2 linked regions of the Homo sapiens genome follow. The protein of the gene in region 1 interacts with the protein of each later gene in a pairwise test. Each region holds a gene or a part of one and is shown in the gene's direction. Other genes may lie near its edges.

The links.
Region 2: the proteins of ZBTB8B (region 1) and CDC7 interact in binary tests that used the Homo sapiens proteins (3 or more experiments, as listed by UniProt).

What each region holds. Positions count from the first base shown.
Region 1 is NC_000001.11:32,484,805-32,490,260, forward strand, and holds part of ZBTB8B (zinc finger and BTB domain-containing protein 8B), read left to right. Parts: intron 1-296; coding exon 297-614; 3' UTR 615-5,456. UniProt on the Homo sapiens protein: May be involved in transcriptional regulation.
Region 2 is NC_000001.11:91,503,851-91,507,350, forward strand, and holds part of CDC7 (cell division cycle 7-related protein kinase), read left to right. Parts: intron 1-3,500. UniProt on the Homo sapiens protein: Kinase involved in initiation of DNA replication. Phosphorylates critical substrates that regulate the G1/S phase transition and initiation of DNA replication, such as MCM proteins and CLASPIN.

The sequences.
Region 1 (5,456 bases):
AATTGTAAGTTTCCTGAGGCCTCCCTAGAAGCCAAGCAGATGCCAGCATCATGCTTCCTGTACAGCCTGTGGAACTGTGAGCCAATTAAACCTCTTTTCTTTATAAATTACCCAGTCTCAGGTATTTCTTTATAGCAGTGCAAGAACAGACTAATACAAAGACTGTGGCAGAGAATGCAGGTGGAGTGCTGAAAAAGGAATCGGGAGGATCAGGCAGGGGCCAGATCACACGGGGCCTTGTGGAAAACACTCATCTCCTTTTCTGTGACATCTACTGTGTCTGCTTGTGATTACAGGTCCACAGATCCAACCGTCCAATCATCTGCAAGGGCTGCAGGAGAACATTCACGAGTCACCTGTCCCAGGGGCTGCGGCGCTTCGGGCTGTGTGACAGCTGCACCTGCGTTACAGACACACCCGATGATGATGATGATTTGATGCCCATCAACCTTAGCTTGGTGGAGGCTTCATCTGAAAGCCAAGAAAAGAGCGACACAGACAATGACTGGCCAATCTATGTGGAGTCGGGTGAGGAAAATGACCCTGCTGGAGATGATTCTGATGACAAACCACAAATTCAGCCTAACTTATCAGACCGAGAGACACTTACGTAGCAATAAATTGGTGGGGAAGAGGAGGTTTTAAAACTTGTTAGTGCTCGTTCTGTTGTTGAAAGATACCATTTGTCCAATTTTGTGGAACCCTGAGAGGAACATTTTTTCACTGTTATTATATGTGCATTTTTATTAGACTATCTGATAGAGGTTGGATTTTGTGACTCAAAGGACAGATAACCTTTTTGTGTGGTGCCCTTGGTTTCTGAGGGCTTTGCTGGCCACTCCTTAATTCTGAGTGAGTCAAAGCAGGCCCTGAGGTCTCCTGTTTTTCTTGCTGTGTGTCCAAACTCTGGTTAGGAGAAAGATAAGAAAATCTCCAGGCTTGTTTTTATATTGATTCAGTCCTCTGCATTCCTTTGTTATCATCCTCTTTCTCTAAAAACCATTAAGTTTTGGGATCAAGTTTACCTTTGCCAAGCCTTTCCTAATGAATTCCACATTAAATTTTCTGGCAAAGTATTAAAGAGAAACCTTCATTGATATAAAGCAGGCAGGGCGGTCTGGCTACATGATCATAAAAGGTACTCCCTAAATCTAGAACAATTTTAAAGGCTTGGAATACTTATGGGCAGACGAACATGGGAATGATCTGAAAGGCTCATTATGGCATCCTGACTTGCCCAGTTGAATTAAATTTTAAGTTAGCCCTGAGAAGGGAGGCTATGACCCCAGGTCTGGATGGTTTCCCTGTCTGGTTTGGCATTTGACGATTCTACACATACAACCTGTTCTGTTATCATAAAACAACTCATTTGGGCAAAACTCAAAATGCTCCCCTACTTTTTCCAGCAATTTCCAAAAGCTGGAGCTGTGTAACTTGGAAATGTAGCTGCCTCTGGCATTCTTTTACTTAGTTTATGCTGATGTAGGGCAGGTGAGCCCAAAAATTGGGGCTTAGCCCAGAGGAGTTCTTGGCTTCACCCAGGAAAGAATTCAAGGGCAAGCCAGTGGTGTTAGACAGCAGCTTGTATTGAAGCAGCAGTGCCCAACAGCAGCTAAGGGGCCGCTCCTCGTGGAGCAGGGCTACACCATAGGCAGTGTGCCCAGAGTAGTAGCTCAGAGGCAGGTCGGCACTTATATTTATACCCACTTTTAGTTACATGCAAATTAAGGGGCAGATTATGCAGCAATATTTAGGAAAATGGTGGTAACTTCCAAGCCGCTGGGTGGTTGCCATGATAAGGGGCAGTGACTTCCAGGTGTTGCCATGGCAATGGTAATTGACATGGCACAGTGATAAGTGTTTCTTATGGAAATCTGCTTCCTGCACCACCCTCCCACCACCGCCCTGTTTTAGCTAGTCCTCAATTTGGTCCATGTCCGAGTCCGGCCTTTGGAGTTGAGTCCTGCCTTCTACCTCCTTGCCTAGAACTTTAATTGGAGGGAAAGTATAAGCCCATAATGCCAAGTAACATTTCTAAAATGTTCATCTTTTAAAAGATCTTCATGAGGGAAAGGGAAGGTTAGTAGCAGAACAGGTTTTTAAAAGCAGTCTACCTTTCGCCCACTTTCCAGCCACACAATTATTGTAACAAAAGAGGCTGAACTCTTTAAAGGGCTAAAGGGCAGGCAGTGTTAGGAATTCGGAATGTAATTGAAGGCAATTTCCATAATTTTGTCTTATGTTAAAATATCCAAAATGGATTTTAAAAGAAATCTTCTTGTCTTCCTTTAAGTGTAGTTGTCTTTCAAAAGGTGGTAAAAGTCACTTTTATTTCTACCTCTTGAACAACAAAAAAGTCAAAAACATTATAAATTGGCTTGTAAATGTTAGCCAAAGCATTAGACAGGTGTTTAAGTCGTACTTCTCAATAGTAGTTAAAACTGGAACAGTGCAACTCAAACTCTGGCCCACAGAGAGGCCCTGTTCTGTAAACTGTTTTCTACCAGTCTGCTACAAGGAAAGTCAGAAATTAAGAATACACATATAGAAATGTTGATAACACTTTGACATTGCTGTGACTCATGGCTTTGTCTTCTTGAGTGAGGTATGGACCAGTTCAGTTCTGGTCAGCTAGAGGGCCACATGGTGCAGAGGTTGGATACCAGCCTGTACAGCAGGACCACGTATTGGTCTGCAGTAGAATGGAAAATTTAAAACTTCTCTTATCACAGGTAGTTCGATAAATATCATTCTTGGCTGTGTGCGGTGGCTCACGCCTATAATCCCAGCACTTTGGGAGGCCAAGGCAGATGGAACACTTGAGGTCAGGAGTTCGATACCAGCCTGACCAACATGGCGAAACCCCGTCTCTAGCAAAAATACAAAAATTAGTCAGGAGTGGTGGCATGTGCCTGTAATCCCAGCTACTCAGGAGGCTGTGGCGAGAGGAACACTTGAGCCTGGAAAAGGTTGCAGTGAGCTGGAATCGTGCCACTCCACTCCAGCCTGGGCAACAGTGTGAGACCTTGTCTCAAAAAAATAATAATAAAATAAATAAATAAAAGAAAAATATTCTAGATCAAGAGTTACTCATTGAAAATTATCAGGGACCAGAGATATTTGTCTTATCTGAAATAAAAATACTAGCTGTGGCCAGGCGCAGTGGCTCACGCCTGTAATCCCAACACTTTGGGAGGCCAAGGCAGGTGGATCACCTGAGGTCGGGAGTTCAAGACCAGCCTGGCCAACATGGAGAAACCCCGTCTCTACTAAAAATACAAAATTAGCCAGGCATGGTGGCGCATGCCTGTAATTCCAGCTACTCAGGAGGCTGAAGCAGGAGAATCGCTTGAACCCAGGAGGCGGAGGTTGCTGTGAGCCGACATCACACCACTGCACTCCAGCCTGGGCAACAAGAGCGAAACTGTCTCCAAAAATGTATACATATATTTGCTGTTATTTTAAAAGAGGGATCTCAGCAAAAAGGAAACCTAAATGGATGTGTAGAAGATTTACTTGGCCAGGAACAGTGTTTGATATTTTTGCTTTCTCTGTTTAAATTATCTCTGATGTTTTAATGACTTTTCTACCTCATAGTTCAGCCTCTTTGCCTGCTTTCTCCAGTGGAGCTATGATCCTCTTCAGTGATTCCGTGACCTCTTCATATCCCTGGGTAAAACATTTTACATTAGAGATTTCACTGTAGGACAGTGATTCTCAGTTGGGGGTGATTTCGTGCCTTGCAGGTGGCTACTGGCATCTAGTGGGTAGAGGCCAGGGAAGCTGCCAAACATCCTGAAATGCACAGGACAGTCCCCACAACAATGAATTCTCCAATTCAAAATGTCAGTAATACCAATGTTGAGAAACTCTGCTGTAAGATAAAGTAGGATTTTTTAAAGGATCTTTAATGAGTGGACTTAATTTTGTGTTCTATTTTAAGCTACCTTTTACCTGCATAATATTTATTTATTTTTAATTTTATTTTATGTATTTATTTATTTATTTTGAGATGGAGTTTCATCTTTGTCACCCAGGCTGGAGTGCAATGGCGTGATCTCGGCTCACTGCAACCTCCACCTCCCAGGTTCAAGAGATTCTTCTGTCTCAGCCTCTTGAGTAGTTGGGATTATAGGCACGCGCCACCACGCCTGGCCAATTTTTGTATTTTTAGTAGAAATGGGGTTTCACCATGTTGGCCAGGCTGGTCTTGAACTCCTGACCTCAAGTGATCCGCCTGCCTCAGCCTCCCAAAGTGCTGGGATTACAGGCGTGAGCCACCGTGCCTGGCTGACCTTCATAATATTTAGTAGCCCCTTATACTCTCGCAAATTTTAGAAAATAGTGGATTAGTAAAATGAAGCGCTGAGGCCAGATGGTTCATAGCTTGCCCAAGATCTGATTTAGGTTTATAATGTGGAAACTTAGAAAATTCTGACTCATTCATACACCCAGAATCGTTACTAGGTTCTGATCATTTTGTTAATTTTTAAAGTAGCAGAATCACTGGGAAGAAAACAGAATGTGACACCTAATGTTTAAATGATTCTCTTTCTTTCGTAATATCTCAGATTGTTGCATTTCTGGTGGACTATTTGGAGTTTGTGTATAGGCACTGGCAATAACTGGATCACTGAGTTCTATCACTTTTAAAGGAGATACTTCCTCTGTCTAGACTATCAGATCATAAATTGGTCCCCTTTAGGTGGTCAGTATTTATAATCACAGTGTCTTTGAGGTTTAATTTGTGGGGTTGGTGGTATTTTTATACTAAGTAAATTTACAGTTGAGCCCAACACAGACCGTTAGTGGTTTAGTTTCTATTCTGGCACATTCCACCCAAGTTCACAAAGGGATATTTTCGTCTCATATTAGATGTATTGCATGAATGGGAACAGGACTCTTACTTGTAATGGAATTCCAAAATGGCATTCTTGGGAAGTTATTTCTCTTGGGGGATGAGGACCCCCTTCTCAAAAGTTGAGAAGGAATGTAAATAGGGCCTTACCTATAATAATTAAGAAATGACATAGTGCATCATGATTCTGATCATTTGGCAGAAAGATGCCGTTCTGATGTAAATATTTTGGTGGCCACCAGACTTTGAATATTCCTTAAGGAAGCTGCTGACCTAGTGTTCTGCAACATGTTATGGAATTGAGTATTCTGGTGGTTTGGAATACTGAGATGGGTTTTTTTTGTTATTGTTCATTGATGTCGTGACAAACCCCAGGGAGAGAAAGGCAACAGGTAGGGCTGCATGCACTGATTCTGGGAGCCGTAGGAAAGAGTGGAGTGGCCTTTGGTTAACTGAACTCAGACTGTTTTATTTGGAACTCTAGATTTTTCTTGTGTGTGTCCCTTGTGCATTAAGAGAATGATCTCTGTGAAGTCTAGTGTAATGGGGTAGGGAGGGGCAAAGGGTTGGGATGGGTGAGAAGTTCCTATTATGCTCT
Region 2 (3,500 bases), about 59 Mb from region 1:
AAGAGAACCAGAATATGGGATCTTATTTCTGATCTCCATTTTTTTTAATATATATCTTGAATATTGCTCATGTAGTAAATATTCTACAACTGGATTTAAGGTCCATTGCATATTATATTATAATATATTCAATCACCTTTTACTATTGACCCTATAGATTGTTTCTATTTTTTCCTATTAAGAAAAATGCTGTAATGCACAAACTATCTGGCATAATATTGGTCAAATGTTTATTCTTTCACTGTTTTGGCAAGCTTTTTTTTTTTTTTTTGAGACATGGTCTCTCTGTCACACCACTGTCACTGGAGTGCAGTGGTGCAATTACAGCTCACTGCAGCCTTAACTCCTGCACTCAAGCAATCCTACCCCCTCAGCCTCCTGAGTAGCTTGGATTACAGGCATGTGCCGCTACACTCAGCTAATTTTAAATATTTTTTTTAGAAACAGGATCTTGCTATGTTGCCCAGGCTGGTCTCAAACTCCTGGCCTCAAGTGATCCCCTCCTATCTTGGCCTCCCAATGCACTGGGATTACAGGTGTGAGCCACCATGCCTGGCCAGTAAGCTTTTATTTTTTTTTAAGTATCTACTATATGCCAAGTTTTAATAAGTGAGAAAGATCTGTTCAGTGAAAGAATGATGTATAAACTCTATATTGAAAGTCTCCTCCATACTGGTGAACTCTACTGGAAGGAAGGCTTGCTTCATTCTGTTTGCTACAATGACACCCTTAGCCATGCTTCTAAAATGGGCTATGGGTACCATCTTTGTTTGCCTGGGACAGATCTAGCTTACGGCTATTGTCACAATGTAATTATTATTCCTGCTGCCTTTTCACTCAAGAGTGTCCCAGTTTGGGCTTATATTATGTATTATCCCCTAGTTCCAGGAGGTATAAACCAGAGAGTACATGAAGCCCCAGAATAACCATGACTATATGCCTAGAGTGTCAGTTTTAATCCATGACAAGATATTGAAAACGTTTCATTTATGTGATGAATATTTATTGTCTGTTATATACATGTACTTTTTTAGGTGCTAGGGATAAATCAAACCATAAAACAGAAATTAACACTGTGGTAGTTAGACAATAGACAGAGAGTAAACAAAAGAAGTAAATACTGTGCTCAAAAGTGATTAATGTTACTAAGAAAATGTAAAAGGGAAGGGGAGATAGGAAGTATTGGGGAAGGAGATTGTAATTTTAGTGAGTATGGTTGCTCATAGCCTTCTGTAACATTTGAGCTAAGACTTCAAGGTGGTGAAGGAGTGACCTGTGCAGATATTTGGGGAAGAGCATTCCAAACAGAGGAAACGGCAAGTACAAAGACCCTGAAACGGCAAGTACAAAGACCCTGAGATGGGAGTGTGCCTAGCATTCAAGAATAGCAAGGAGGTCATTGTGGCTAGAATGGGGAAGGTAATTGGAATGAAGTCAAAGAGAGATGTAAAGAGGCTTTCTAATGGAGTGAGATGTGAAACCATTAGAGGTTTTGAGCACAATAGTGACAAGGTGACTTAGCTTTATCAGAATACTCTGTTTAAACTCTGTTTGCTATGTTGCAAGCCGACTGGCTACTATGTTACAGATAGACTCCAGGCTGGCAAGGAGTGTAGTTAAGGAGACTATTGGTATATTAAAACCAACTTGGATATATTATGCAGCAGAAAACAAAAGTGACTTAAAATGTCAAAATAGAAGCCTAGACCTTCATGTATAAAATAGAGGCATTTAAATAATTTTTAGCATATTATAGATTTTCGGGATCCTCCTCCAGTCCTCAAAGTCTGTTTCATTTGTCTGTCTTTAGTACTGTTTTCCAGCTTTTGACATGAATGCACTTTTCTGCTTTCTGCTGTCATTTCCCACTTCAGAATTTGAGGATATTGCATTCACTTTGGTTGCCAGGAAGTTTTACTGTTGTTTAAAATTGTTGAAGTTGTTCTGAAGTGACAGGAAACCTTAATAAACATTTTGATTTTTGTAAAGAGGAGTAGATGCATAATAAGTGAGTAGTGGTGTGGAAGTACCCTTAATGTTTCTCCTCCCTTTCACATCTGTTCTCCACTTGTCATTTTTCTGCTTAAAAACTTCCTATAGCTTTCATGTGCATTCTCTCTTGTCTTCCTCAGCCACATTCTATTTCTATTATTGTTATTATTGTTATTATTATTGAGACAGGGTCTCCCTCTTCCATCACCCAGGCTGGAGTACAGTGGCACGATCATAGTTTAGTAACCTCAAACTCCTGGGCTCAAGGTATCCTTCTGCCTCAGTCTCTGTAGCTGAGACTACAGGCCCGTGTTACAAAGCCCAGCTAATTTTTGTTTGTTTGTTTGTTTTTTAGCTTTTTTAAGAGATAGGGTCTCAAACACCTGGCCTCAAGCAGTCTTCTTGCCTTGGTCTCCTAAAGTGCTGGGATTACAGGCCTGAGCCACCGCCCCAGGCCACATTGTATTTCATTGTCTCTCAGCCCTCCCCCTACCCTAATCATCCAAGCCTTTTTTTTTTCTTGTTCCTGTCTTTACAGACGTAGTTAATTTTTCCTAAAATGTTTTCTTCCACTTTCACTACTTGGTGAATGCTTCAGAACAAAACTTAGCTGTCAACTGAAGGCTTCCTATCACCTTCAGAAATCCTCCCCAACCTAGTAGTATATACATTCTTTTATTACAGGTGTCACCTTGTATTAAGAATGATAACATGTTTCCTTTACTAGACCAAGCTCTTAGTGGCTGCATCAAATTTATTGGTTTTTTTTACATACCCATTGCTGAGCATTTTTTAAGACAGCGTTTATTTAAATGAATTAGTTCTAGCCAGGTGCGGCGGCTCACACCTGTAATCCCAGCACTTTGGGAGGCCAAGGTGGGCAGATCACTTGAGGTCAGGAGTTCAAGACCAGCCTGGCCATTGTGGTGAAACCCCGTCTCTACTAAAAACACAAAAATTAGCTGGGCGTGGTGTTGCGTGCCTGTAATTCCAGCTGCCCATGAGGCTGAGGCATGAGAATCTCTTGAACGCAGGAGGCAGAGGTTGCAGTGAGTGGAGATTACATCACTGCACTCCAACCTGGGCAACAGAGTGAGACTCCATCTCAAAAAAGAAAGAAAATTAGAAAATATATATAATCAGCAACACCTCTGTGAAATTGGGCAAATGATTTAACCTCCCTGAATTGAGTTTCCTTATCTGAAAAATCAGGATAATCATTCCTGCTCTGCCAAGTTCACAGTACTGTTAGGAAGACCTCAAAAGATACTGCATGTGCCGGTGCTTTGAAAATGTCTTAAACTTATGCTATATAGGGCTAGTAGAGCCTAGATACTGTAATAAAATCTGAAGACTTATCTAGTTCTCTTCTGTATCCAGTAGTTTACTGGGTTTTGTATTATTGCCTCCCCTTGTTTTAACTATGTACATTTTTATAAAGAACTGATACTTATTTAAAAGTAGCAATTTATCTGCAGTCAAGGATAGAGGATACTACTGGCAATTGG